2 separate regions of the Homo sapiens genome follow, and region 1 is linked to region 2. The links come from fine-mapping of genetic effects on gene expression. A gene starts in region 2. The other region holds a variant in brackets. All regions are shown on one strand. Distances are from middle to middle. Region 1 overlaps TMEM220-AS1 (TMEM220 antisense RNA 1). Region 2 holds the start of TMEM238L (transmembrane protein 238 like).

Region 1 (15,338 bases), 28 kb before region 2:
GGATTACAGGTGTGAGTCACTGCACCCACCCAGAGTGTTTTTCTTAGTGTTGAGTAAAACCTCCACTCTTTAATTTCCATTCACTTGTCCTAATTCTATTGTCTGGGTGTCATGTGGAATTAATCTGGTTTCTTTCTGGTGTCTTGATGGTCGAAGATGTCACTCATGATCTCCCTGAACTTTCACCTTGTCTTGGCTAAGACCTCGCTGTTCTTCTGGCCTTTCCTCTTAGAAAGAAAGCTTCTTAGGCTTATCACCATCCTGGCTTTCCTTCCTCCCTTCAGTACCTTCAGTACCTTCCTTTGATCTCTGGCAAAGGCTGGCTCCCAAGTGGGCGCTGTCCCTAGAGAGAATCTGGCCTGCATTTGACACCAGTACTCAGCAGGCTGGCGTTTTCCTAGTTGTCTTGAAAGGTCAGTTTAAGCAGGCATTGGAACAGGAGAGGAACAGCCTCTGCTCCTGGGGCATGTGGCTGGAGACTCCTTGCTGCCCAAAAGACATAGTCCCACTCCTTGTGCCTGGGAAGCCAGGCCAACCAGTCACCACTGCTGCTCTCGGCCACCCCTGCCCGCTGCTCACTGTCCGAGGGTGCAGAGCTGGGCCTATATTTTCCCATGAGGCCATAACTCTGCATCAGCCGCAGCAACCATGAGCTCTATCTGGTTTCAAGACAATTTCATCACCCCTAATGGAGACTCCACACCCCTTAAGCAATTACTCTCCATTCCTCCCATCCGCAACCATGAATCTGTGTTCTGTTTCTATGGATTTGCCTATTCTGGACATTTCATACACTATGTGGCCTTTTGTGTCTGACTTCTTTCACTACGAGGTTCATCTACCTCAAAGCATCTGTTTCTACCCCAGGCCTAGTTAGTCATGCTGGTCCTGGCCAGCGGTTGGTCCCTTCCTCTATGTTCTAGCCAGGGTGAACTTAAAAATTGTCACTGGGTCTGGATGTTGGGGATCAGCAAACGTGGGTCACTGCCAGGAGTACCAGGCCCCGAATCCATCTTTCCATTCTGGGTGAGGAAGATGGATGGGGAGGGATTTTCTGAGCTTGGATTCTTTCTTCAACCCTTGGCCACTCAGAGCTGGGGTATGGGTGAGGCCCTCTAAGAGAGTGGTGTGGGGTGAAGCCCTCCCTGGCCTCCAGCTGCCACCTCAGGATCTTTGCATCTCCTGTCCCCATTCTTTGCCCAGATGTTGGCATACCGCCTCCTAACCACCTTTACTCAGACAACACCTCCTCTGCTGCTCGGCCTTAAATTCCAACTCTTCATCTTGCTTTTTCTTGCTTTTTTTCTTAGCATTAATCACTAGCTGGAGTGTGTGTATGTGTGTGTGTGTGTGTGTACTGTTATTTATCTTGTTTTCTGTCTTTCCATTCAACCAGAATGGAACTCCCATAATTGTGTCTTTGGTCTGCTACTATGCACCCAGTGTCTGGCACATAGTGAGTGCTTGATGAGTATTTATTGAATGGATGCATGGATGTCTGACATTCATGCCCAGGGGACCTGCAGCCTTGATGCTGGTGCCATCCTAGCCTCGAGTGTGGAGGTAAGCCTGAATTTGGACATACGGCTACCTTCCTTAGCCCCAGCATCACTGGCTTCAATGCAGGTATGGCCAGAGCCTGCTCCAGCTAGGCCAGGGGTCTGGCCAGACAGGTCTGGGGAGGAAGGCAGGTGTCTGACTGTAGACTTGAATTTAACCCAGTCTTTGCCAAAGAAAATGTTGTGTGACTTGCACAAGTGAAACTTGAAGTTCTGTAAATCCAGTTGCTCCAGTTTTCTGTGTGGACAACTCAGGGGGAGCATTTTCCTGAGTGACATGTGCTGGTTGACCTGAGATCATTCTGGGTGTTTCATTCCTCTGATCAGAGAGAGCAGGGAATAGACTTAGGTTTGGGAGATTTTCCTGAATTCTGATATCTGACAAGTGTGATGAATAGTGTTCAACAAACACGAAGGAGATCTTTAGTCCTGGAGTGGAAGAGTAGGAACCTGAGGCACTCCCGTTTAGGTTTGGGTGTGGATTATAGGAGGGAGAGTCCTAGTCCAGGAAAGCAGGCTGTGTTCCTCGTATATTATGAAGTTGTCGGCTGTGTGTGTCTATGGCTATGTGTGTTTCTGTGTGTGTCTCTGTGTATCTGTGTGTTTGTGTGTCCATGTGTGTCTTTGTGTGCTTATCTTCGTGTCTCTGTGAGTTGAATAAATGGGGATCTGAGGGGCAGTTCTGGGTTCTTTGTCCATGGCAGTCGAGATGATCTCTGGTGTGCCTGGTGTTTTAGTGGCAATTTAGCTCTCTGAGATGTAAGCATAATTGCTTTCTGTCCTTCTGTTTTATTTCTCTAACAGTGGTTTTCAACCCTGGCTGCACATTAGTCCCATCTGGAGAGCTTTATAAAATACTCGTGTGTGGGTATCACAGCACACCAGTTAAATCAGAGTCTCCAGATGTGGGACCAGGGCACTGGTATGTTTCTGAAGCTTGACAGGTAACTCTAATTGCAACCAATGTAAGGTGTGTTCTGAAACCCTTTAGTGAGGATTAGGGGGAACCACACTAAACTTGAGACCTGGAGGTTTTGTTACTGGCTCCATCATTAAGTTGCCTTTGACCTTGAACAGGCCACTTTGTCTTTCTGGTCCCTTAATTTTTTTTTCTTTGGTAGGATGCAGATAATTGCATTATCCACATGGATGTGCTTCCTGCATGGTTGTAAGGTCAAATGTGTGAAAGGGCTTTGTGCATTCTGAAAGGATACAAGAACGCAAGAAAATATTATTAGCATTATTTGTGTTAGCCCCTTGTAGAGACCCAAAAAATGGGGCCAGAGATGGGCGTACAATTACAGCAAGATCGTAGTGAAAGAAAAACCGAGGAGCACATCCTGCTACTCTGATTTAGTTTTCCCAAGACCAGGCAAAGCCAAGAACGCCTATGCTTGTAATTCCAGAAGCTGACACTAGGGGGTGCCCGATTCATGGCATGGATGGCAAAGATCTCATTTGACGACAATTTCCTGTTCCCTTTGGTTAAAATAGTTTGGCAGGGCTCAGTGGCTCGCTCTTGTTTGTCCCCAGCTGTATGCAAGGAGGATCCTTGAGTCCTGGAGTTTGAAGCTGCAGTGAGCTATGATCATGCCACTGCATTCCAGCTTGGGCAGCAGAGTGAGACATGGTATTTAAAAAAATAAAAGTAAAATAATTTACTAAAATAACCATTTAGATATTAAGGTGAGAGTGTAAATGCCTTTCTCACACTATCTCTGTGCAGTCAGATGGTGGTTTTCATTCTGCCCAAGTTCCCTTCCTATGTTCCACCTCTCTTGATTCTTCTGGCCTTTGTAGTAAAAATCCTTCTTGGGCCTGAAGCTGGGCTTGCCCACTCAGATTTCAGAGAAACATCAAACAGCTTTGGTTGCTGGCAATGAACCAGGGAGGAGGCCTATCTGGCTCCTCTGCAGACTTAATTAGCTCTTGAGCTGCTCTTTCTGTCAATCTGGCCTTCTCTGCTCCTCCCTCCCTCTTGCTTTTAAGGAGAGAATCTCATTTTCTGCTCCCAGGGGCCCATTCTTTGCAAGCCACTTTAGCTTTCTTTCCTTTCTGTGATCAGGAAAGCCGGATGTAGATGTCAAGGAGGGTAATTGTAAAAGCTGACTGACACTTTTTCTTTCTGCAATTAGGGAAGCGTGACTTTGACAACTAAGCCAAATCATTCATTCCCCTGCCTTTGAAACTCACCCCTGGGTACAAGTTATTTTGCATAAAATTACTCAATATTTTCATAGAACCAACCCGGGGACTGCTACCCAGTTTTCTTCTGAGTCTAGGTCATTTGTTTGTTTGTTTGTTTTTTTCTTCTCTTTTTCTAAGTATTTGAAAACACATCTGAAATACACAGTTGCCAATGTTATGGGTCAGTTGCTATAAATACAAACTTTTTGGAACAATGCACATGAAATGATGAACAATGAATGCCTCTGGGGACAAGACTGGATGTTTGAGCTGGTTCATGTTCTCGTATAAAATCTTCTAAAAGCAGGGAGCTTGGGGTACCTTAGCTGACTCAATACCATCTTACCTTCACTCCTTCAGGCCTTAGAGAAAAGGATTAGAAGGAGGGGACTTCTTTCACCCTACGGTCACGCAAGCAGACCAGGTCCCCAGCTATCCTTTCTTGTAGCTTTATGGGAATATGGAGAGTGGGTTTTCCAGGTGAGGTGCTCAGAAACCAAGGAAGGAAGACCCTGGGCAAATTGCTAAATGCCAGATGCTGTCAAAGCAAAGTCCTCATGGACCCCAGTGGGAGGAAGAGCTTGTGTGGTGACCCAGTGTAGACAGGACCCCATGTAGTTTCTGGACTCTGGAACAAGATCCTTGACTGCCATCTTTTGTCAGGTCCTCTTCACCCTTTCCCTCTACCCTCACTTCTTCCCAGCTGCATACCCTTCCCCTTCTTGAGCAAATTCTATGGAATCTTGACCCAGCTCCCTGTCAATCCATTCTCATAACACCTGCCTTTCTCTCTTTCCTTCTTTCTGGAGTCTCCTTTTCCATTTCTGAGAAATTCTTCCTTTCTCCAGGGGCAAGTCTTTCTACTTCTCTCCTTCTTTCTTTCTCTTTTTTTCTTTCTCTGTCTCTCTTTTTTTTTTTTTTTTGAGACAGAGTCTTGCTCTGTTGCCCAGACTGGAGTGCAGTGGCACAATATCAGCTCATGGCAACCTCTGCCTCCCAGGTTCAAGTGATTCTCCTGCTTCAGCCTCCTGAGTAGCTGGGACTACAGGCACATGCCACCGTGCCTGGCTATTTTTTTTTTTTTTTTTGTATTTTTAGTAGAGACGGAGTTTCACCCTGTTAGCCAGGATGGTCTCGATCTCCTGACCTCGTGATCCGCCAGCCTTGGCCTCCCAAAGTGCTGGGATTACAGGCGTGAACCACCGTGCCTGGCCTCTTTCTTTTTCTTGAGACAGGGTCTCGCTCTGTCACCCAGGCTGGAATGCAGTGGCACAATCACGGTTCACTGCAACCTCGAACTCCTGGGCTCAAGAACTTCTCCCACTTCAGCCTCCCGAGTAGCTGAGAATACAGGCACGCACTATCACACCTGGCTTTGTTCTTTCATTGTAGACCATCATGGCCCCTTAGACCTGACCTGAAATCACCAAAGACCAGATCTTCCTTTTTTAAGGCAGGCAGGTCTTAATCTCACAACCTTTTAAGTTTCATATTGCAATGGTCTGGCCACTAATGGTCTACTTCTTTGTGTTTAAATAAAAGCAAATCTGAATAAAACCCAAGTTTTGGCTGGGTGCGGTGGCTCATGCCTGTAATCCCAGCACTTTGGGAGGGCGAGGCAGGTGGATCATCTGAGGTCAGGAGTTCGAGACCAGCCTGGCCAACATGGTGAAACCCTGTTTCTACTAAAAAAATACAAAAAAATTAGCTGGGTGTGGTGGCGGGTGCCTGTAATCCCAGCTACTCGGGAGGCTGAGTCAGCAGAATCTCTTGAACACAAGAGGTGGAGGTTGCAGTGAGCCGAGATTGCGCCACTGTACTCTAGGCTGGGTGACAAGAGTGAAACTCTGTATCAAAAAAAAAAAACCCAAGTTTTAAATCAAGGTGTATTTGCTTTTCTTTTCATTCCAGCCATAGTGAGCAGCTTTCTGGAGCAGGTGTGGCCCACCCCATTTCTAGGACTTTGCACTTGCAATCCCTGCTGCTGGGAACACCCTTCCCTTCACTGTCCCTTCATTTTCCCCACTCCTTTCTTTTTATAGGGTTCCTTTTGGTCATCTCTTCATCCTGTAAATGCATAATTCTCAAAGTATTTTGTTAGCACACGCCAGACTTTTATTCAACTCATGAGTGAGGTGTGGTGAGCTGTTACAGTAATGGTCCTCAGTTTATCCACACCTCCCTGTGTCTGCAACTTCCCACCCTGCTTGCCCATATGACTTGCCTTGACCCGTGGGACATGACAAATAAAATATGGGCCGACACTCAAAAAGTACTTGCATGTTGTTGCTTACTCTTGCTCTTGTTCTTGGAACCCAGCAAGTAGCAGATAAAAACCACAGGCCTGCCTGCCAGATGATGAGAGACACAGGGACTCGTTGTCCCTTATACAGGTGAGGGCATTTTAGACCACGGAGTTTCCAAGTGTCCTGCCAGTTAATTATAGATGTGTAAGCAGACCAGCAGACATTAACTACCCCAACCAGAAGAACTTCCCAGCACACAAAATCATCAGTAAAGAAAGGCTTCTTGTTTTAAGCCACTCAGTTTTGGAATACTTTGTTACACAGCTGAGGCTGACTGATACGTGAGAGAATCAGCAGGAAAAAAAAAAAAAAACAAGTTCATTGAAGATATGAGGAACTGGGATTTATACAGCAAAAGGAAAAAGAATGCTGAAATAAGACTGCAAAATTCAGTGTAAAACTGGTTAATACCTAACCAGGCAATAAAAAGTAACCTTTGGAGTTATCTCAAAGACTCATAGATGGTGGCATTTAGGAAATTAAAGAAAACTTTTATCTTTAACGAGCATCAAGGAGTCAGCCTTTTCAGAAGGGCTGGCTTGCCAAATACAAAACACAACGAGCATTTGAAGAAAAAAAAACCTGCAAAATGACCAACTCATAAAGTTTACATTAACCTTTTCATGGTGAAAAACATATTTCTCATATCATCCTCATAATCCCAAAGGTCACAGCAAATCTTCAGATATCAGCATAGCAAAATTCAAGGAAAAGATGATTTTGTTAAAAAAGAGTCTAGGTTTGTGGGAAATAGCCAAGGTTTTGTGATGCAGGTGACCTGAGCCAGGCAGGGAGATCTTGTTATTTTTGCTTAGTTTTTTTTCTAGCTGTAGTAGATAAAGAATGCAATGATAGCAGTGAGCCGAGATCATGCCACTGCACTCCAGCCTGAATGACACAGTAAGACTCTGTCTCAAAAAAAAAAAAAAAAAAAAGAGGAAGAATGCCATGATACCGGAATTAGAAAGTCTCAGTGTCAGTTTTTATCTTTACACTTCTTTCTTGGACAGAAAAAAAAAAGGGCTTTATCAATTTTATACAAGTTAACTTTTTATTTTATGTCTAGGCCCTTGCCAAGAATGTATCAAATAAAGGTACATTGCATAAAAGAGAGTCAGATGACCCCCAGGTGGGATTTTTAGAAAATGCTCACCGGGCATGGTGGCTCACACCTGTAATCCCAGCACTCTGGGAAGCCAAGGTGGGCGGATCACCTGAGGTCAGGAGTTCGAGACCAGCCTGGCCAACATGGCGAAACCCCGTCTCCACTAAAAATATGAAAATTAGCCTGGCATGGTGGTGGGTGCCTGTAATCCCAGCTACTTGGGAGGCTGAGGCAGGAGAGTCGCTTGAACCTGGGAGGTGGAGATTGCAGTGAGCCAAGACCGCACCATTGCACTCCAGCCTGAGCAACAAGAGTGAAACTCCATCTCAAAATAATAATAATAATAATAATAATAAGAGAGAATGCTCTAGCATGGATGGTTGGTCACACAATCTTTTTTTTTTTCTTATATCTAAGTCGTGTCATTTCCCTAAACAAATCTTTCCCTGACTGCAAGCTCAAGGTAAGTGCCGCTCCTTCTGGCTGCCATAGTGCCTGAGCCTATTTGTCACAGTCTCCTTTAATCCTGTGGATGCCTGTTTGTTTGTGAAGTCTCCTCCTTTAGACTACGCCCTCCTTGAGGTTGGCGACGTATGTTATACACCTTTGGATCCCCAAAGTTTAGCGCAGTGCCTTGTACAAGCATTTGGAGAATGATTCTATCAATTTATTTTTTCCTCATGCAACCAAGGACAGTATTTCCCCTACTTGGCAGCACCAGAATTTCCAGGGGTGTATTGTTAATCAGCTTCCCAGGTGATTTCATTACAGTGATGTGCAGGAGGCAGCTGGCACTGGCTGGTGACAGCCGTTTCTGAGCATTTTCTGCCAACTCTGTGTCCAATAACAACACATTGGTAGTTTGAAATTGAGCACGGTGGGAGTATTTACACCACGATATCAGCAAATGTTACAAATCAGGGCGTTTTTTTTTTTTTAGATGGAGTCTCGCTTTGTTGCCCAGGCTGGAGTGTAGTGGTGTGATTTCAGCTCAGCACAACCTCCACCTCCCAGGTTCAAGCGATTCTCCTGCCTCAGCCTCCCGAGTAGCTAGGACTACAGGCCCATGTCACCATGCCCAGCTAATTTTTTTGTATTTTTAGTAGAGACAGGTTTCACCATGTTGGCCAGGCCGATCTGAAACTCCTGACCTCGTGATCTGCCCACCTTGGCCTCCCAAAGTGCTGGGATTACAGGCATAAGCCACCGCACCCGGCCAGGGCTTTTGTTTTTGAGAGCCTGTTTACCTGCTCTCCACCAAGTCTGCTCATCTCTGGTCCAAAGACTAATGTCAGAGAATTGTT[A/G]ACTGAGGGTGAGGTCGGCAAACTATGCCTGCTTTTGTACTGCCCATGAGATAACAATAGATTTTAACATTTTTAAAAAGATTGTGAAAGAGGAAGAAGGAGAAGGAGAAAAGGAGAACAAGGCGAAGAAAGATGGGGAGGAGGAGGAGAAGAGGAGAATGAGGGAGAGGACAAGGAAAAAAAAGAAGTAGTGATAGAGACTGTATGTGGCCTGCAAGGCTTAAAATGTTTAATATGCAGCTTTTTATGGAAAAGTTTTGCTGACCCCTGACCTAGGGAAGCTCCTTAAATCTGACTGCCTGGTAAAATCATCTTAGAGCTTTTTTTTTTTGAGATGGAGTCTCGCTCTGTCGCCAGGCTGGAGTTCAGTGGTGCGACGTCAGCTCACTGCAAGCTCCACCTCCCGGGTTCAAGCGATTCTCCTTCCTCAGCCTCCCAAGTAGCTGGGATTATAGGCGCCCACCACCATGCCCAGCTAATTTTTGTATTTTTAGTAGAGACAGGGTTTCGCCATGTTGGCCAGGCTGGTCTCGAACTCCTGATCTCAGGTGATCCACCCGCTTAGCCTTCCAAAGTGCTAGGATTACAGGCGTGAGCCACTGCGCCCAGCCTCAGTTTGGCTGTTAGAAGGACTCATTTGGATGCACGCATTCCACATTAAGGTGGATTTCTAAATCCTGCTCTCCCTATGCTGTCTGAAGAGGATGCTGGCTTAGCCCACTGTCCCCCAACACCCACTGTAGGTCCTGCTTCCCCAGAAGGATTCTTTTGAACTTGTGCAGACTGAAGATACAGGAGAGAAGGGGAGGCTGGGGACAGTAGCCTGCTCCAGATCTCCATATGGAAAGTGTGGGAGGCTGGAAAAGTTGACAGTGAGGAACTTGAAACTGCATTTGACATTGGGCATGCCTATTGTCAATATTGAAGAATGAATGAAGGGATGAGATTGTGGGAGGCTCCTAGTCCCCTAATTCCCCTTAGCACCAGATAGAGGGATTTGAAAATGAAGTGTGAGACAGGTTTACAAGCAGACGGTGTAAATAGATGGGAGACAAAGCATATTTCAAAGACGTTTTGCTGTGGCCCACATGTAGAGACCCTTTTGCAGAGTTCAGGGAATACAAAATCTAAACAACTTGAGTTTTTAATTTATTTTATTTTAAAAATTAACATCTAATAAAGTTGACATTCTTTCAGAGAATGTATAGTTCTATGACTTGTAATCCATGCATAGATATGTTTAAACACCACTATAATCGGCATGCAGAGAATTCCATCACCCCAAAAACCTCTCCCCTGCTATTCCTTTGTGATCATATCACCACCCCAACCCTAAGCCCCAGCAAGCACTGAGAGGTTCTACATCATTATAGATTTGTCTTTTCAAACATGTTCTGTAATCATACGGTATGAAACTGACTTCTTTCACTCATCTTAGTGCCTTTGAGATTCATCCAAGTTACTTCAAGTATCAAGAACTCATTCATTTTCCTTGCTGAGTAGTATTTTATGGTATGGATGTACCACAGTGTGTTTATTGATTCACAATTGAATTTTCAGTTTTGGGCAATTGTGAGCAGAACTGCTATAAACGTTGGTGTTTTTGTGTGGACATAACTTTTCATTTGTCTGGAGTACATGTGCAGGACTGGTATTCCTGGGTCATCTGGTAAGGAATATATCTGTTTAACTTTATAAGAAGTTGTCAAACTGGTTTCCAGAGTGGCTGTACCATTTTCTGTTTCCACCAGCATTGAATGAGAGCTCTGGTTACCCCTTGGATCACACATACTGCTAGTATTTTCTATTGTAGTTATTCTAACAAGCATGTAGTGATATCTCGGAGTGGCTTTTATTTGCATTTCTCTAATGGTGAATGATGTTAAACATATTCACCTTCCATATGGTGTATTTTGTTAAAAGGTTTGTTCAACTCTTTTGCCCATTTTAAAATTATTTTGTTGTTGTTGTCATTGTTTTCTTATTAATGAATGTTGAGAGTTCTTTCTTTATTTTTTTACTTTTATTTTTTGAGACGGAGTTTTGCTCTTGTTGCCCAGGCTGGAGTGCAATGGCGCAATCTGGGCTCACTGCAACCTTTGCCTCCCGGGTTCAAGCGATTCTCCTGCTTCAGCCTCCTGAATAGCTGGGATTACAGGTGCCCACCACTACATCTGGCTAATTTTTTGTATTTTTAGTAGAAACAGGGTTTCACCATGTTGGCTAGGGTGGCCTCGATCTCTTGATCTTGTAATCCACCCATCTCAGCCTCCCAAAGTGCTGGGATTACAGGCGTGAGCCACCGCAGCTGACCCAGGATTTCCTTTTAAAGCAGTTTTTAGCCACAAATTTAATTAAAAAAAAAAAAAGGTGATTCACATCATCTATTTAAACTTGGATGAGTTGTGGTCACTTTTGGCTTTTAAGGAGTTAGTTCATTTCCTCTAAATTATCAAATTGATGTCCATAGAGTTCTTCATAGTATTTCATATTATCTTACTACCTTTTTCAGGTCTGCAGGATCTGTAGTGATATCTCCTCTTTCATTCTTTTTTTGTTGTTTTTTTGAGACAGGGTCTTGCTCTGCTGCCCAAGCTCAAGTGCAGTGGCATGATTATAATCCACTGAAGCCTAGACTTCCTGGGCTCAAGTGATCCTTCTCCCACCTCATCCACCCAAGCAGCTGAGACTACAGATGCATGCAACCAGGCCCGGCTAATTTGTGTATTTTTTTGTAGAGATGGGTTTTTACCATGTTGCCCACGCTGGGCTCAAACTCCTGAGTCTCTTAACAGAGACTTTTGCAGAGACACTTTAAATGAAATTTTAATTTTGATGAAGTCAAATTCATCATTTTTTTTCTCTTGTGGATTATGCTTTGGATGTCATTCAACCACTTCTTGCCTAATCCCAGTTCACAAAGATTTTCTGCTATTCTTTTAGAAGTTTCATATTTTTGGTTTTACATTTAGGTGTTTGATTCTTTTTGAGTTAATTTTTGTATTTGGTGTTAGGTATAAATCAAAGTTCGTTTTTAAAAATGTAGATATATACTTATTTCAATATCAATTATTGAAAGGACTGTCTTTTTTGACTGAATTACCTTTGCATCTTTGTAAAAAATCAGTTTTCCAAATATGTGTGGATCTATTGTTGGACTGTTATTCTGTTGAATTAACCTAATTTTCTTTCTTAATGCCAATATCATATGATCCTATTTAATACAGCTTTATAATGAGTCATGAAATCAGGTAGTACTACCTTTTTGTATTTCCATGTGAATTTTAGAATGAACATGTCAATTTCTTTAAAAAACCCTGCTGAGATTTTTATTGGAATTGTTTGAATCTATATATCAATTTGGAGAGCATTAAATCTCAAAAGTATTAAACCTTCTGACACATGAATATCATATGTCTCTTCATTTATTTATTTATTTATTTATTTATCCATTTATTTAACTTCTCTCAGCAATGTTTTATAGTTTTCAGTGTAAAGAACTTTTCTTTATCAGAAGACTTTAAACTGCAAATTCAATTTGTTTAATATATAGAGAGCTATTCTGGTATCTATTATCAATAGTTAACTATTTTCAATAGATAACTATCAATAGTTACTATTATCGATAGTTGCTATCGATAGTTACCTATTTCTTCCTGAATAAGCATTTATAGTTTGTATTTTCCAGATAATTTGTTTATTTCATTTAATTCATCTAATTTATTGGCATGAAATTATTCATAATATTCATTTAGTATCCTTTACTATTTGCAGAATCTGCAGTATGTCACCTTTCTCATTTTAATTTTTTAATTTTTTATTTTTTTCTCATTTTTAATATTGGTAATTTGTGTCTCATTTATTTTTCTAATCACTTTGGCTAGTGGTTTACAAATTTTACTTATCAAAGAACCAGCTTTGGGTTTCACTGATTTCTTCTATTTTTTTTAATCGACTATTTATTGGTTTTTGCTCTGATCTGATTTCCATTCTTCTGTTTCATTTGGGTTTCTTTTGCAGTAATTTTGCTGATTTTTTAAAAGATGAGATTCTAGGTTGTTTCTTCAAGAAGTTATTTTCTAAATAAGCATTTCAAACTATAAATTCCCTCTAAGTATTGCTTTAGCTGCATCCTACAACTTTTGATAAGCTGTGTATCATTTTTATTTAATTCAAAATACTTTCCAATTTCTCTAATTTCTTATTTATTTCTTCTTTGACTCATGAATTCATAAAAGTGTGTTATTTAGTTTTCACTTATTTAGGATGTATATATAGATATAGATGTAGATATAGAAGGGTTTATGCATATATTATAAGTACCACAATATACTATTCTTATTTTTGTTTAAACATCTACTTATCTTTTAAAGAGATTTAAATAATAAGGAAAAGTCTTATGTATTTATCCAAGAAGTTACCCTTTGGCTATTCTTCATTACTTTGTGTAGATCTGTATCTCCATCTGTAATTTTACTTCTGCCAGAGGAAATTCCTTTATTATTTTCTGTAGCATGGGGCTGCTAGTGATGAATTGTTCTAGTTTTTGAATATCTGAGAAATCTTTATTTTGCCTTTGGTTTTGAAAAATATATTTGCTGGGTAAAGAAATTTTGGTTGTCATTTTTTTCCCCAGTACTTTAAAGATATTGCTACATTGTCTTCTTTTTTACATTGTTTTTGATGAGAAATACATTGCCATTCTTATCTGTGTTCCTCTGTAGCATGTCTTTCTGTCTTTCTCTGGTGCTTTCAAGTTTCTCCCTTTATTTGTTTTGAACAATTTCATTATGATGTACCTGAGTATAGTTTGCTTCAGGTTCTTGTGGTTGATTTTCCTTCTCATTATGGGTCACATTTTCCTGCTTCTTTGCATGCTTGGTAATCTTTTTTTGGTTGCCAGACATTGTGAATTTTAACTTGTTTGGTGATGCTAGATATTTTTGTGTTTCTGTAAACATCTTGGAGCTTTGTCCTGGGACACAGTTAAATTACTTGGAAATAGTTTAATCCTTTGGGTGGGGAGTTGTTTTTAGACTTACTATACTAGAGTAGCATTTAGTGTAGAGGTAATTATTCTGCACTACTAAGTACTGAGTACTTCACTTAATGCATGTATCACGTGGGTTTTTATAGTGTTTTGTTGGACCAGGCATCCTTCCTACTCCTGCTGAACACCTTCCACTCTCCCCTCCAGTCGTTTCCATGGTTCTTTTCCCAGCCTTGGGTAGTTTCCTCACACACACATGCCAATCAGTACTCTGCTGAACAATCTTTTGGAATTCTCTGCAGATTTCTGTCTGTGCAGCTCTCTCCTCCTATCTGATATTTTGCCCTTCAGACCGTAGCTGATTTCTTCTCTCTGGACTATCACTTCCTTCTAACTCGGGGAGTCTTCCAGCCTCCATTTATGTTCCCCTTCCTTATACCGTGGTCTAGAAACTCTCTAATGCCATAAGCTGGGGCAACGGTTGGGCTTATCTCTTTTTTCCCATCTTTCATTTATCACTGTATTTCATTGCCTGATGTCCACACTTTTTTTTTTTTTTTGAGACAGAGTTTCACTCTTGTTGCCCAGGCTGGAGTGCAATGGCGCGATCGCGCCTCACTGCAATCTCCACCTCCTAGGTTCAAGTGATTCTCCTGCCTCAGCCTCCCAAGTAGCTGGGATTACAGGCATGCGCCACCATGCCAGGCTAATTTTGTATTTTTAGTAGAGACGGGGTTTCTCCACGTTTGTCAAGCTGGTCTCGAACTCCCAACCTCAGGTGATCTGCCCACCTCAGCCTCCCAAAGTGCTGGGGTTACAGGCGTGAGCCACCATGCCCAGCCTCCACACTTTTGTAAACTATCATTTTATATGTCTTGTTTGTTAATTTATTTTTTGTTATTTCAGGCAGGAGCATAAATCCAGTCTTTGTTATTCCATCTTAGCCAGAAGTGACTCTTTAGGGTCTAATCGTAATTCAGAAGTTCTGGAGTTGCTCTATATAAGAATCGCTTGATGAGGCTTATTAAAATGCAGATGCTCCCACACAGCAATATGGTGTCTGGAGAGGGAGAAAATAATCTGCATTTCAGTGAGGTACTCTGGCCACAATTTCAGAAGTGCTGACTTCAGACATCCTTCCATCTTTGGCCTACAACTGTAGTCTTCTTTATAGATTTCAAAGTGCTCTGGAGTCAGATTGATTGTTTCCAGTTCCATCTCTACTTGTCACTACTGTAATATCTTATCTATCATAAAAAGATAACCCAGAGAAGTTAAGAAATTTGTCTGAGATTACAATTGGTGACAAGTAAGGTTACGATAAAGAATAAATTATTTTGGCACATGGTAAGCCCTCAGTAGATGTTAGTTATTATTGTATGTATTGTATCTCTTGATAGTTATAAGAGCCCATTTTACAGATGAAATTGGAGCCTTGGAGGAAGGTATAGTGACAAGGTCATTTGGCCAGCAAGTTGCAGAGCTGAAACAGAAACCCGGGTCTGACTTCTAGTACGAAACATTCTCTTTCCTCAGTTGATGGTTATATCAAGGTGGAGGGTTACCAGCAAGGGGAGAGGAACCACAGGGGTGTGTGTGTGTGTGTGTGTGTGTGTGTGTGTGTGTGTTTGCATTAATGAGGGGAAACTGCATTACACTTTGCAAGAGGGACAAGTCAGCTATTGTCATTTAACTTTGTGGAGATTTCCTCCAAACTTCGGGGTTTTATGTTATGCTAAGTCCTCACTACACTCCAAATTAAATCCCCTGTTGCTGGAGTTCCACTGATGTCTCTTGCATGTCTCTTACTCTGCCTTCAATATTTAGGAAATTGGAAGTATGTGTATGTATGGAGGGAGGGTAGGACTCTGGATTTGTGATCTGGTT
Region 2 (15,338 bases):
TCCCTCCCTCCCTCCCTCCCTCCCTTCCTTCCTTCCTTCCTTCCTCACTCTCCCAATCCCTTTTCTCTCTACATCCTCACCCTCTGTAATCTCATCCACATGTCTCTAACCCCTAACCTCTCCCTCCACATCTGATCTTTCTTCTGAGTTTAAAATCTGCACATTCAATGCCAATTAGGTAGTTCTGCTCGTATACGATTTGCATATCAAACTCTGCATGTTCAAAAGAAAATGAATCATTTTAAACAAACTCATGCCTTTTTCTGACCTCCCTCATTCCATGCCCCAGGGGCGCTTTCTGAAGGCTTTGACAATGCCACCCCCGATCTGCTGTAGAACAGGACAGGCCGTTCTCCACTCATGCAGTCTCTGCTCTTCTCCCCTCCCCTCCGTGGCCATCATTTCAGCTTGAACCCTTTTATTACCTGCCACCTGAGCTTGCTGAATGGCCTTGCTGTCTCTCTGCTGCTTCTCTCTCATCCATTCTGCACACGATGCTCAGTTACTCTTCTACAGGCAAAGCTTGATCATGTTGCTCTCTAGTATCTAACACCACTGAAGACTCCTCCCTCCTCTCCTAGTGTCAGACTCCTCACCTGGTGTTCAAAGTCCTGCACAGCCGGCACTGAAGACTCCAACCCCCAGGCAAATGTGCCTGCTTAGCTTTTCCTAGACACCCTAATTCTTTCATTTCTGCAGTCCTTCCTTTTGCCTGGACTGCCCCCTACCCACCACCCACGGCTGCTGTCCCTGTGCCATCTCTACTTGTCACATTCTTACCTGTTCCTTAGCAGCCCAGCCAGAACCACACACAGCACGCTTCCCCCAGCCAGGAGGTTCTGTGCCTCCTCTCAGCTTTCAGAGCCCTGGCAAGACTGTGCTTATCTCCTGCAATGCATTTTCCCTTGGAAACTTTGTGAAGTATCGTGCACATGCTTTATCTCTCCCCTTAGATTAAAAATCCCTGGAGAGATTAGAGAAATGTTTGCTCCTCCACACAGCCCTGGCACCATGTCTGCATGGGGCACAGATTCATTGAGCAGGAGAGGAGGGCTTTTTACCAGGCTCACCTTTGAGCTGACTTGGCAGCTCCACTGGCCTCCTCTGTGGGCAGAGGGGAGAGGCTGCCTGTTGGAAAAAGTCGAAGTGGAGGAACAAGTTTCATTTTCCAAGGCTCAAGGCTGTTAGCCTTTTGGCTTTGGTTGGTGTGAGAGTGGGTGTGTTTGTTTCTGTGAGTGTGTGTTTCTGGGTGTGTGTTTGGTAGGTGTGAGTGTGTGGTGGGTGTGTTTGTTTCTGTGAGTGTGTGTTTCTGGATGTGTGTGGTAGGTGTGAGTGTGTGGGGGGCGTGTTTGTGTGTGCATGAACACGTGGAGTAGAAGAGGGATGTGTGTGTACGTGTGTGGGGTGTTGGTGTGTGTGTATTGTTTGGGTGTGTAGTCTTGGACACCCTATTAAAAAAGGACAAGAGTCTTCATCTGACTTTGCTTGGGGACTTATCTTTATCTGCAGGAAATAACCAAGAAGTGGAAAATGGAGCAAAAAAAAAAATCTGAAAATACAGTGACCAGGTGATAAAATCAAACGGCAGCTTGTCTCTCTTGGAGCACAGTTGATCTATAAAAATCAGCCACTCGCCCTGAAACTTCCTGGGGGTGCCTTTGAGGTTTAGCAGCCACCCTGCCCTCTCTCTGGAGAACCACGCAGGCTGTGGGCAGAAGGCTTGTGGGGCAGCCAGGCCCCTGCCTTGTCCTGACCGAGCATGGGACCTCCTCATCTCTGGGGCAGGGTGGGGGCAGGTCCTATCAAACTCATTTTTTAATTTTTTATTTTTTGGGGGATGGAGTCTTGCTCTGCCGCCCAGGCTGGAGTGCAGTGGCACGATCTTGGCCCACTGCAATCTCCGCCTCTCAGGTTCAAGCTATTCTTCTGCCTCAGCCTCCCAAGTAGCTGGGGTTACAGGCACATGCCACAATGCCTGGCTATTTTTTGTATTTTTAGTAGAGACGGGGTTTCACTATGTTGGCCAGGCTGGTCTCCAACTTCTGGCCTCAAGTGATCCTCTGGCCTTGGCCTTCAAAAGTGCTGGGATGACAGGCATGAGCTATCATGCCCGGCCTCAACCTCATCTTACAGAGCCTCTGAAGGCTGAGCTAGGAATGTGGGCATCAGCTCTGAATGCAGGGAGCCCACATTCTTTCCTTTTACCCCGCTCTGAGAATGAGAGAGCTGGCAAAGCCAGTTACAATCTGCCCGTAAATCGTGAATGTGTCTGGAATTGACATATAGGCCAAAGGTCGTAGGCTGTAGGGGAAGTGAGACGAGCTGCTTTTCAAATATTTTTTGGCATCAGAAACTTGTGTTCATGTAAAGTCTTACGTGCCAGTTTAATGTGCAAAGCTGCTGAGAGCTCCACTGTTCTGGGTGAAATGTGTGTTACGGGGTGGGTAGGGCTGCTGGACTCCTGTCCCCTCACTCTGCCCCTCACCCCAGGCCCAATTCCCTTCCAGGGACATTGGCAGAACACAGTTTGAAACCTCCCTTGGAAACCACATCTTTTTTTTTTTTTTTGAGACGGAGTCTGGCTCTGTCGCCCAGGCTGGAGTGCAGTGGCGTGATCTCGGCTCACTGCAAGCTCCGCCTCCCGGGTCCACGCCATTCTCCTGCCTCAGCCTCCCAAGTAGCTGGGACTACAGGCACCCGCCACCATGCCCGGCTAATTTTTGTGTATTTTTAGTAGAGACAGGGTTTCACCGTGTTAGCCAGGATGGTTTCGATCTCCTGACCTCGTGATCCGCCCGCCTCAGCCTCCCAAAGTGCTGGGATTACAGGCGTGAGCCACCAGGCCTGGCCGGAAACCACATCTTTAACTCTAAAGGGAAGTAAAATGATTCGCCCAAGGCCATGGGGTGGAGGAGGGTTGGGCAGCCCCATAAGTGAGCAACGTCCTGAACAGCAGGACTCAGCACACACGAATCTGTCACTCTGGGCCATCCCTGAAATGTGTCAGGGGATGGAGATGCAGTAAAGAATACAATAAAGAACATATTAAAACTTCTAAAGTTTCTTTGAACCAGGACAAAACTCTAGCATTCTGGAGCAGCATTCAGTCTCATATCTACTGAAAAATCCTAATGTTGTACATTGCCATTAGAACTGATCGTAATGCGTCAGGGCCTCACCCTCTGTAATGTGCTGGCTACCTGCATCGTGACTGACGCTTTATTTAGTCATCACTTGCATAGTGCTGAACAAATATTAATCCACCTAATCTGGGCAACATCTTTATGACGTAGTGGCTATTATTAGCACCATCTCCATTTTACATATTTGGAGTAATGGGGCACGGAGAGGTGAAGTAACTTGCCCCAAGTCACGTTGCTAGAAAGGAATAAAACTGGATTCAAGCCAGAGTCTAGGTATGGCCCATGCTCTTCAACGCCGGGCTATTGAACTTCTGTTCAATGAGGGAAGGCTGTTCAGGGCACGGAGCCTCACACTGGGGACTCTGTGTTGTTTGGGTACTTGTCTTGGCTCCCCAAATGGGTTTCAGCCGGTAATAATCATAACCATAATAACCTATACTGTGGCCGGGGTGGTCTCTTGGAAACACAGGTCCAATTATGTTAAGCCCCTGCCTCTGCTTATATCTCTTCAATGGATTCCTTTTTACTGTTTTTTTTTTTTTTTGAGACGGAGTCTCGCTCTGTCACCCAGGCTGGAGTGCAGTGGTGCGATCTCGGCTCACTGCAAGCTCCGCCTCCCGGGTTCACGCCATTCTCCTGCCTCAGCCTCCCAAGTAGCTGGGATTACAGGCGCCTGCCACTGCGCCCGGCTAATTTTTTGTATTTTTAGTAGAGACAGGGTTTCACTGTGGTCTCGATCTCCTGACCTCGTGATCTGCCCACCTCGGCCTCCCAAAGTGCTGGGATTACAGGTGTGAGCCACAGCACCCAGCCCTCAGTGGATTCTTATTGTTCTTCAAGTAATGACCAAAATCCTTCAGAGGGCCCTCGAGGCCCTGCCAGATCTGGCCTCTGTCTACCACAGAGCCCTAACCCTCACCGACATTTGCTCTCTGCCCTTCAATCTCCCTGTCGTCTTTTATTTCCTGTTATCCCAGGACCTTTGCCCAAGCCATTGCCTCTCCCTGAAAGACTTTCCATTCACCTCCCACTCTTCCTTTGGCATTCAGCATAATATCACCTCCTCCAGGAAGCTTTCCCTGACTCCATCTTCTGAGTCAGTTTCTCTATTGAATATTCTTGTGGCAGGATGCTCCTCTCCTTCCTAGAGCAGACCTGACTTTGTTATTGTACTTTTGTAAGTGTGAATCTTTGGTGAGTGTCTGTCTTTCTCACCTGATGGTAAACTCCCTGAGAGTAGAGCCCCCACGTCATGTGTCTTTTTTTTTTTTTAATTGAGACAGGTCTCACTCTGCCGCCCAGGTTGGAATGCAGTGGTGCAATCTCTGCTCACTGCAGCCTGTGCCTCCTGGGCTCCAGCAATCCTTCTGCCTCAACCTCCTGAATAGCTGGGATTACAGGTGTGCATCACCATGCGTGGCTAATTTTTTGTATTTTTGGTGGAGATGGGGTTTCACCATGTTGCCAAGGCTGGTCTTGAACTCCTGACCTCAAGTGATCTGCCCGCCTCGGCCTCCCAAAGTGCTGGGATTACAGGCATGAGTCACTGTGCCTGGTCCATGTGTCTCATTTCTTATCCCCAGTGTCTTGCACAGTGCCTGACACATTCCAACATACCAGCACACAAATCAGGGACCCTTTTTGCTCTGAAGTTTCCTGATGCAAAGTGTGAGTTGACCCCCATCACTACCAATTTGAGAGACACCAAGGTACTTCACATTTGGACTTTGGGTCAGTTAACTCATCCCAGATTATGTGTTTTGTATGCTTGACATCTGGTGTAAGAACCACATCAATTGTACAGCCTTTCCCTGCCTTATCTCTTTTCGATCCTTGCAGCAATAAGGGCCAGAAATATTCTCTTCATCTTACAGATGAGAATCCTGAGGCTCAGAGTGTGCAACCTGGCCAAAAACACCCAGCTAACAAGTGCTGAAGATCAGAGTGGGACTGACTTCTCATCTGTTTCTACATCATTTCCTAGGTATGGGCTTACCTTACTCTACTGAGACCTCTTCATTTTGCTTCTCTTTTCTCTGAGTTCTGAGAGTCAGGTGTAATCCCCCACAAAAGACACAATTATTATTTCCTTCTTTCAACTCAGCAACGACCTTTGCTCTTACTTCTGGTAAGGGAGTAAGAAACGGGAGTGCCTGGATACACCTGCGTGCAGGTTGGGCCCACCTGGGGAGGAGGGTATGGCTGCCCAATGGACCGTGGCTCTGACTTCAGTCCCCTGGAGACAGCTGTCCATCTCTAATTCAGGGTTGTAAGGACCAGACCACTCTATCTCTGGGACTCTGTCTTGATGTGAAAAAATCTTACAACTCTCTGCCTCTTTGGTTGCACGCGATAGACTGAGCTGTGACATGCAACTCAGCGGATGAAATCCATGAAGCCAAACTGTCTTGACTTCTGGGCCTTGGAGACTGGCTGGGCACATGTGTTGGCTGCGTGTGAGTGTGAGTGAGGGTGGGGTGGGAATACTGCAGAGAGAGGAGGTGTGTGCACTGAGTGGGCATGGAGGCGAGTAGTCCCTACCCCGCTTCTTGTATCCCATCTGGGCAGGTGCAGGGAGGAAGTGAACGAGAGGGGCCGTTCTGGGTGGTTCTGCTCTGTTTGCTTTTACCGTGGCCCAGTTCACACCCCTTCATGTATGCAAGGGCACAAGAGTCATTGGGGAACTTTCCGTCCTCTCCTGTGCTAAAGACTTTTCTCCCCAGCAGAGATTCTTCCCAACAGAGAATGCAGATGGGGTCTTTTTGTCCCCAAGTTCCGAGGTAAAGGGATAACTTCCCATTGTGCCCAGAAGCCAGGATCATTCGTGGTATATCAGGGGTGGAAGGGGCTGTTGAGACTCTCTTTCCAGCCTCTGCGAGGAAAAGGGCCCGGAGGAGAAAACACCTGCCCCACGTCCTCTTGGCTGGCCACCCCAGCAGGACCTGAGGCCAGGGCCACAGGATCCCCAGTCAGGGTGCAGTGTCTGGCTATTTGCTTATGCAGCCTCAGGAGGCCTGGTCTTGCCCCTGCTTGTCCAAGCCTCTCTGGCCACCCTGCCAGGTAGGTCTTGTGTGCACTCACCTGGTCCCGGCGTGGCTTGCTAGGTGGAAGCTGCAACGTGTTGCTGCCCAAGAGCCCCAGGTTCACAGACATGTCTGCATACAGCACCTGCGTCTCTTCTCCTCTTCCCATGGCCAAATTACAGGTCCAGTTTTTCAGGAGACACCTCAATGTTGAGGGAATACCAGATGATCCAGAGCAGTAGGCTGAGAGCCAGGATCAGGGCACCTGTGTAGATGAAGAAGTCCCAGGAACTCAGGGGGGCCAAGATCCCCAGCAGCAAAAGGACCAGGCCGACCGCGTCCAGCAGGAGGGCGAGGATGAGGAAGAGCGCACAGCGCCCTGGATGGCATCTTCCCCACAGACTCCCCAGGAGCATTGCCCAGGAGGAGCGGGAGGAGCCCAGCTGCACTCCCGGGGGTGATTTGCATGGGAGGGTGGCGGTCCTGCCTGCTGCTGCCTTCTCTGCCTGCTGGGTGTGAGCAAATGAGCGAGCTGGCGCTTCTTGGAGCCACAGGGAAGTACACGTGGGTCTACCTTTATGAGCACGGCAGCCAGTGGGGCAGGATATTTCTTAACTGTTTCATGGCTCAGGAATGATCTGGACCCAAACAGTCTGACATCACTGTTAATTGGGCTGCTCATCGCTGGGACCTACAATCCATGTGGCAGAGGAGTCAGGGTGCCCTTGGATGCATCTGCCAAGTTGGCGGTCCTGTGATTCTGGGGGAGGGGCTGATCTGTGCCTTGTTCTCTAATCCCTGGAAGCCAGAGAGCCTGAGTGCCCTGTTTCTGAGACACAGCTGCTTCATCTAGTATAGCGGGGTGGAGTGGTGGAGTTTCCATTCCTCTTCACCTCCCTGCCCTACTCTCTTCCTTGGGGGAAAAGGTTTTATGTAAAGGACATAGACAAGAGTTTGTAAGATCAATCGATTTTGAAGCGTTGCTGTAAGAATTGGTCCATGTTAGCAAGAGAAGTTTTGCCTTCTTGTAGAGCCCTCACTCTGCAGACGGAAGGATCTGAGTTCCCTAGGATAATGGACAGTAAGGATAAGGGCGGGAAAGGGGTAGAGATGGAAAAGACAGAGGGGACAGAGAGAAGACAACAGGGTGAGAAGAAACTTCTGGCCTCTTCCTGCAGTGGATTCTGTGTGGACCAAAGGGCAATTCCCAGGCAAAAGTCAAGGGATGTTTCCGGGGCCTGTTGCCTCTGTGTTTTCTACATGAACTCATTTTATGTTCATTTTCTTTCTCATAATAGATGACCCTGTAAGCCCTTCCAGACACTGCCTGCATCCCTTCTACATTGATGGGAGCGATCTTATCCCCGTGGCTGCTCACGGCGGGTGTGGGGGTGAACATCAAATGAGGAAAATGCAGCGGCAGTCCTTGGCAGGGCTGCAGACAGCCACCCCTCTGTCCCTGATTCACAGGGAGGCTAGAACAGGGCACCAAACCTTTCTGGGCCTCAGTTTACCCAGATAAATGAAGAAAATAATTTCCACTCTCACTTTTGCCTTCCCCAGAGGGTGAGAATAAGTAGGTGGATCTGATTTCCTTTTTTTTTTGAGACAGAGTTTCATTCTTGTTGCCCCGGCTGGAGTGCAATGGTGCGATCTTGGCTCACTGCAACTTCTGCCTCCCAAGTTCAAGCAATTTTCCCACCTCAGCCTCTGGAATAGCTGGGATTACAGGTGCCCATGACCATGCCTGGCTAATTTTTGTATTTGTATTAGAGATGGGGTTTCAAACTCTACTTGGCCAGGCTGGTCTCGAACTCTGACCTCAGGTGATCCGCCCGCCTCCGCCTCCCAAAGTGCTGGGATTACAGGCATGAGCCACTATGCCCGGCCTTCATTTTTCTATGTGTAAAATAAGCCAGGATGAGAAAGAAACTTTCAGAAAATATTTTGGGGAAGGTGGCAGGGGATGACCTAAACCATAGCTCTTAGGATCTGAAACGCCACGAGACTTGAGCCAAGCCAGGTGAACACTCTGGACACCTCAAAGTGGGAAGTAGCTGAGGCCAATCTCCATCTCAGTACTTGCCTCCTGTCCCACTAGGTCCTCGGAAGGGGCCAGGTACCTACAGAAACACCTCACATTGCTGGGGAAGCCATGACTCTTTCAATTTTTTGTTCCCCCTGTAGGAGAGAGTCTCTTGGGAAAAACTATTGATGGACAGCAATGGCCTCTTCCCAGTGCCAGGACAAGCACTGCTGCTGTGTCTGCACAGGGCTGGGCTAATGAGTCCTGGTCTAGCCATATACAGGTTCCCAGGTCCCTTTGCAGAGTCCTGTGTGTGTGGCTCTAGTCCACCATGGACAACAATTTAGCACTAAAATTTCTGCATGCTGGAAAATCCTTTGTTTCTGGGTCAACTGGCATGGTTGGTCAATGTAGTCCCATCTAACTGGGCCACATCATACTCTCAGTTCCGCGGTCTGCGTTCTCTCTCATAATACCTGGCCATTCTGGCAAATCGCTAACCATGGCCCCACTCCAGGTGACTGGCCAGGCTGTGAAGTGCCCCTCCACCTCTGCCCCTGTGTATCTTTCTTACTCTTGTTTCCCAAAGTTACCACTCCTGTGTGTTGAGGCAGCCTCGGTATTTGCACAGCTGGGAGAGACCTACTGGGACGTTTGATGCAAAGCCAGGTGAGTCTGGAGCCCTGGAGGGGGGCAGGCTAGAAAGAAAAGAAGGGAGATGAAAGTGAGTAAGGAGGGTGGCTCCAAGTGTGGGAACCAGAAACTGCCTGGGCGGAGGCAGGCGTGGACGAGGGGCAGGTGATCAGAGAGCAGTTTGCTGCACCCCCGTTAGCAAGAAGAACACCACCACCCTCTTCTTCTCACGGAGATCCTTTGTGACTTCCTCACTTGCCAAGGCTGGATCCACAGCTGGAAATAGCTGCATGCTTTGCCAGGGCTGCTGTAACAAAGCACCACAGCCAGGGTGGCTTGAACAATAGAAATGTATCATCTCCCAGTTCTGGATCCTGGAAGTCTTGAGATCAAGGTGTCTCCAGGGTTGGTTCCCTTGAGGGCTGTGAGGGAGAATGGGGTCCAGGCCTCAGCCCTAGCTCTGGGTGGTTTGCTGGCCATCTGTGACGTTCCTTGCCTTGTAGATGCACCACTTTGATCTCCGCCTTTATCTTCACATGGCGTTCTCCCTGTGCGCATGTGCGCATGTCTGTGTCCACATCTCCCCTGTTATAAGAAGCACCATCCTGCTCCAGTATGAACTCATCCTAACTAATTAGATCTGCAAAGATCCTACTTCGAAATAAAGTCCCATTCTGAGTTACTGGGGGTTAGGATTTCAGCATATGAATTGGGAGGACAGAATTCAACCACAGCCCATAGCAATACCTAAAAGGTTTGTTTGTTTATTTGGACATCCTTTGATTTCTAGCTGTAGTATAGATAGAAAATTTAGACTCTCAAGCCAAGTTTTCAGAAAAAACATAATTGCAAAGTCAGCACCCCATTGAAGGTGGCCCTCCATGCCAGCAGGCACTGCTTCAACCCCTCCCTGTCTCTCCTGGGGACACGGAGGTGCTGTTGGCTATGTCTGTGTCCCTGGGCGAGAGGCTGAGAAGGTGGGGTCTTCTCACCCTGCTTGGGTTCTGGCTGCTGTCACCTCTATTCACCAAGCCAAGGTGCTCATTCTCCACGAGTGGGTAACCCTAAGTGACCCCTACACATTTTGAAGTTTGAGCTGAAGTGGGATTTAAATTGAACCAATATTATTAGCACCTACTATGGGTCAGGCAGCAGGATCAAGATCAAGTATGATCTTGATCTTGACCTAACATCACAGACATAAGATGCTAAGAGTGGAGGCAATAATTAACACATGAATGGTATAATTTCAGATTATATTGCAATTTAATAATTTCAGAAAAAAATCGCAAAAACAGGGAAGTATAAGACAGTAGGCATCTGTTACACTCCTCTGGACATTTGCTTTCTGAACCATAACATGGTGTGGAAGGCACAGGTGGACGCCTAGCCCCTGGCCTGCAACTTCCAATTTGGTCACTGAGGGCCCCTCTGCCTCTCTCCTTCTGCGATTTTGCTGGGCTGTTGGGGCTGCAGCCACCCCTGTGCCTCTGAGAGGTTTGTCTTTCTGCTGCTGTCTCACAGCTCCGCCTCTTCTCGGCAACTGAGACGTTGTCACTCCCTTGGCAAAGTCATCATGATTTGTCATCCGTGATGTCACCAGATGACAGCCTCTCCATGACCTGGATCCTAAAGGGCAGGCAACTGACACCAGGATGGACTAGCTAGGTGCTCAGCTGACCCAGCGTCACAGATCCCAGACCTGACTCCATGAATGACAAAGGCCCAGTCACATCCTGGGTGGCAGGCTCAGATGTTGGGTGGGTCTAGCCATGCCGGCCTGTTCATTAGGTCTGCCTACCTTTTCATGGTGCAGAGCTTAGTAGAGTGCCTAGCTGTGCCACTCACTTGCTGTGTGACCTTGAGCAAGTCACTTACCCTCTCTGTGCCTCAATTTCCTCATAGGATTACTGTGAGGCGTAAGTGAGTGCATGGGTGTGAAGTGTTTAGAACCCGCACTCTGTAAACAGGGACAAGTGTTATTGTTGTGGTTGCCGCTGGGAATCTTTACATTTCTGCCATGATGCTTATGTAAGGAAAAACCCAGGTTGGAAGGCATCCATCCATGACTCTCTGGCACCATCATTTTCTCCCCTTTACCAACCTGGGCTTCACTTGGTAGCAGCTGCCTGGCCCTTGGCCTCCCCATACTACCCTCACTAAATCTATTAGGACGTGCAGTGCTGTCTCACCATTCTTCGATGGGTACAAATCCTTTATTTTCATGAACTCCTCTTCCCAGATCCATTTTATCTTTCAGATCCCTTACCTCTACCAAAGTGGCTCTTTATCTTCACCATCCTCAAATCCCTCAACGCCCCCTAATCTCGTAATCCAGTGTTTATCAAGCTTCACTTATTGTTTAAGTGTACCATTCCCTGCAATTTGTGTCTCTTACTTATAGAATATTACATTCGTTTGTTAATGCTATATTATTTTGTTAATTTTTAAAAATGGATTTGTTGTCTCTACTAAAAAAATACAAAAAAAATTAGCCGGGCATAGTGGCGGGTGCCTGTAGTCCCAGCTACTCGGGGGGCTGAGGCAGGAGAATGGCGTGAACCTGGGATGCGGAGCTTGCAGTGAGCTGAGATTGTGCCACTGCACTCCAGCTTGGGCGACAGAGCAAGACTCCGTCTCAAAAAAAAAAAATGGATTTGTTAAAACTGCAATCAGTTATTGTCACCATCAGTGAAAAACTGGTGTGACTTAGACAGAAAGTACTTGGGAATAAATATACTGAACACAAAACAATTGTAATTAAATCAGACCAGGGGTACTCAAACTCTTTCTGTATTGGGCCAGATAGTAAATGTTTCGGGCTTTGCAGGCAATCTTGTTGGTCTCCGTTACAGCCATTCAACACTGCCATTGTAGTGTGATATGGTTTGGCTTTGTGTCCCGACCCAAGTCTCATTTCAAATTATAATCCACATAATTCTCATTATCCCCAACTGTCAAGGGAGAGACCAGGTAGAGGTAATTGGATCATTGGGGTAGTTTCCCCCATGCTGTTCTTGTAATAGTGAGTTCTCACGAGATCTAAGGGGCTCATCCCCCTTTGCTGGGCACTTCTCCTTCCTGCCACCTTGTGAAGAAGGTGCCTTGCTTCCCCTTTCCCTTCCACCATGATTGTAAGTTTCCTGAGGCCTCCCCAGCCATGCTGAGCTGTGAGTCAATTAAACCTCTTTCCTTTATAAATTACCCAGGCTTGGGTATGTCTTTATAGCAGTATGAAAACAGACTACTGCATGGTGAAAGAGCCAGAGATGATATGTAAATGAATGAGTGTGGCTGCATTCCAATAAAACTTTGCTGTAATCCCAGCACTTTGGGAGGCTGAGGTGGGCAGATCACCTGAGGTCAGGAGTTTGAAACCAGCCTGTCCAACATGGTGAAACCTTGTCTACTAAAAATACAAAAAATAACTGGGTGTGGTTGCCCATGCCTGTAGTCCCAGCTATTCAAGAGGCTGAGGCAGGAGAATCGCTTGAACCAGGGAGGTGGAGGTTGCAATAAGCCGAGATCGCACCACTGCACTACAGCCTGGATGACAGACGGAGACTCCATCTCCAACCAAACCAAACCAAACCAAACAAAACAAAACACCTTTATTTACAAAACCAGGCAGCAGGTCAGATTTGCTGATTTCCAAACTAGACATTGTTGCCTACTGAAATTGCTCTCTTTCTCAAATAAAGACCCAAGACTCACAAAGTTTAGAGAGGTACATAAAACATAATAGCACCAACCAGTGGCTTTGTCCTGGAAGTCATAGGAAAGATTGAATGAAAATTGAAATGGCTATGCCTTTTAATGTGAGCCTGTCTGCCAACTGAAATCCCTTCCCATACTGCCAGGGATATAGTGCCAGAATCTGGAAAAATGTTGACCCTGATCAATGCTCCCCAATCAATCTTCATTTACTCCTCCTTTTTCTCAGTGTGGGACTTAGGGTCAGTATTTTCAGAAATGTATTCGCTCTTATCTTAGTGACCCCTGACAATTTTCAGAGCTCTTCATTCCTCCTCTGTTAGGCTACCCACAGGGTCTTATAAGAATTCCCCAAAGTGCGCTGCCTGGACCTCTGTAATCCATGCTCGAGGACCCTCCCTCCAGCTCAGGAAACTCTAGCCCTCTTTTCTGGTTTTCCTATCTTATTCCCTACTGGGCTGACCTAAACCTTCATGACTCCTGTCCACATCTCAAAAGCATCCTCCCATTACCACCTCCTTGCTGCTCATCACCTTCCTTCTCCGCAGGTTGGTAACCTTGCCCCCTTTCAGCAGATAATAATAGTATTTCCATGCATTTGTGTTGCACTTTATGTACAATGGACATCGATCTACATCCAGCATCTCCTTGTCCTCCCTGCAGCCCTGTTCCTCTTCCAGAGTTGAAAGCCGTTAAGAGAGTTGCCTAGGTTCAGCCAGCAAGTAGGTAACAGAGCTGCAATTAGAACCTGGTCTTGTCGTCTCATGGGCATTAAATACAAATACCAACTCTTCTCCCTTTCCTCTTCCCCACCCTTGTGTCAGTTGTTTCCCAAATCCTCAGATAATCAAGTTAGTTTCTTTCTTATTCCCATTTAATTAATTTTTTTTTTTGAGACGGAGTCTCACTCTACTGCCCAGGCCAGGCTGGAGTGCAGTAGCACGATCTTGGCTCACTGCAACCTCCGCCTCTTGGGTTCAAGAGATTCTCCTGCCTCAGCCTCCCAAGTAGCTGGGATTACAGGCACACGCCACCACACCTGGCTAATTTTTGTATTTTTAGTAGAGATAGGATTTCACCATATGGGTCAGGCTGGTCTCAAACACCCGACTTCAGTTGAGTCACCTGCCTCGGCCTCCTAAAGTGCTGAGATTAAGGCATGAGCCACTGTGCCTGGCCTTTAATTAAGTTTTTAATTAAAAATTATTTATTTTCATTGTAGAAAATGTATGTGACTAACAATTTGCTGCCTTAACCATTTTTAAGTGTACAGTTCAGTGGCATTAAGTGCATTCGCATTGTGCCACTATCGCCACCATCCACCTCCAGAACATTTTTATTGTCCTGAAATGAAGCTCTGTGCACATTACATACTAACCCCCCAGACTGCCTTCCCATAAGCCCCTGCAACCACCATTCTGCTTTCTGTCTCTGTGAGTTTGACTACTCTACCTACCTCATGTAATTGAAATCATACTATACTTGTCCTTTGGTAACTGGCTTCTTTTTCTTAGCATAGAGTCCTCAAGGTTCATCCGTGTTGTAGCATGTGTCAGAATGTTCTACCTTTTAAGGCTAAATAACGCTCCATTGCGTGTATTTACCACATTTTATGTATCCATTCACCTGTGGGTGGACACTAGGTTTGCTTCCACCTCTTGGCTATTGTGAATGATGCTGCTATAACCATGGGTATAAAAATATCCATTTGAATCCGAGCTTTTGATTCCTTTTGGTATGAGTGTATATACCCAGAAGTAGAATTGCTGGATCATATGGTAATTCTATGTTTAATTTTTTTTTTTTTGAGGCGGACTCTCGCTCTGTTTCCCAGGCTGGAGTGCACTGGTGCTATCTCGGTTCACTGCAACTTCTGCCGCCTGGGTTCAAGTGATTCTCCTGCCTCAGCCTCCTGAGTAGCTGGGATCACAGGTGTGCGCCACCAGGCCCAGCTAATTTTTGTATTTTTAGTAGAGACAGGGTTTCACCATGTTACCCAGGCTGGTCTTGAACTCCTGACCTCAGGTGATCTGCCTGCCTCGGCCTCCCAAAGTTCTGGGATTCGAGGCATGAGCCACTGTGCCCAGCCTATGTTTAATTTTTGGAGGAACCCATTCTCATGTGAGGATCCCATTCACTTTCCACAGTGGCTGCACCATTTTACAATCCCATCAGTGATCTAGGAGGGTTCTAGTCTCTTTATATCCTCACCAAAATTGGTTGTTTTCTGTTTTCTTGATAATAGTTATCTTATCCTAAAGTGAAAACTGGATTCCTATGTACTTTTATACTAGTCCTCGTTACATTGATCCAAGTAGTTTGTTTAGTTTTCTGCCCCCCTCATGAGGCTGGGCATCCCTGTCAGTACAAGCATCCCTGCCTTCTCCTTGGTAGCCCAGCACCTGGTGTTCACTGAATAGATGCATTCTTTATAATTCCTGGGACATTCCCAGTTTATTGGAAAAGCTGAGGCTGCTTCGCCAAATCTCCCCAACTCTACTCAGCTCTACTCAAAGTGCCTCTGTGTTGTTCCTCTCTTCCTTCCTCCCATTTCTGGGGAGGTAGTCTCCCAGCTACCTCCCATCAAAGCAAATTGCTTCCACGATAATACCTTGAAGTCCCATGATGCCGGGAAATCCAGCGCTTCAGTGGTCTACTGTGAATGTGGGTCCCTTCCACACCAGTTTATTTTTGCTGCCTGTTTCTGCTGACACTCAGCTCCAAGTTCATTGCTGGGCACATTGTACAAGATGTTGAGATGGAAATCCTGAGGCATCACCACCATGAGAGCAGCTGGGT

The links. PIP is the estimated chance that this variant, and not a neighbour inherited with it, causes the effect.
Region 1: its variant is fine-mapped to the expression of TMEM238L in nasal epithelium (TOPMed, PIP above 0.99).

The regions. Positions count from the first base shown.
Region 1 is chr17:10,769,645-10,784,982 of GRCh38, forward strand. All of the region lies in intron 1 of TMEM220-AS1 (TMEM220 antisense RNA 1), which reads left to right. Among named protein-coding and RNA genes, the nearest start is that of TMEM238L, 27 kb to the right of the region's middle. The variant A/G (reference allele first, on the strand shown) is at 8,462.
Region 2 is chr17:10,797,382-10,812,719 of GRCh38, forward strand. It overlaps TMEM238L (transmembrane protein 238 like), which reads right to left and starts at 6,718. Exons shown (of 2, transcript NM_001388428.1): 1 at 6,225-6,718. The coding sequence starts at 6,582. The coding sequence ends at 6,343. It overlaps TMEM220-AS1 (TMEM220 antisense RNA 1), which reads left to right. Exons shown (of 4, transcript NR_073458.1): 2 at 5,018-5,127; 3 at 8,782-8,861. RefSeq lists enhancers at 1,205-1,706, 1,707-2,206, 6,337-7,122, 9,871-10,372, 10,373-10,872.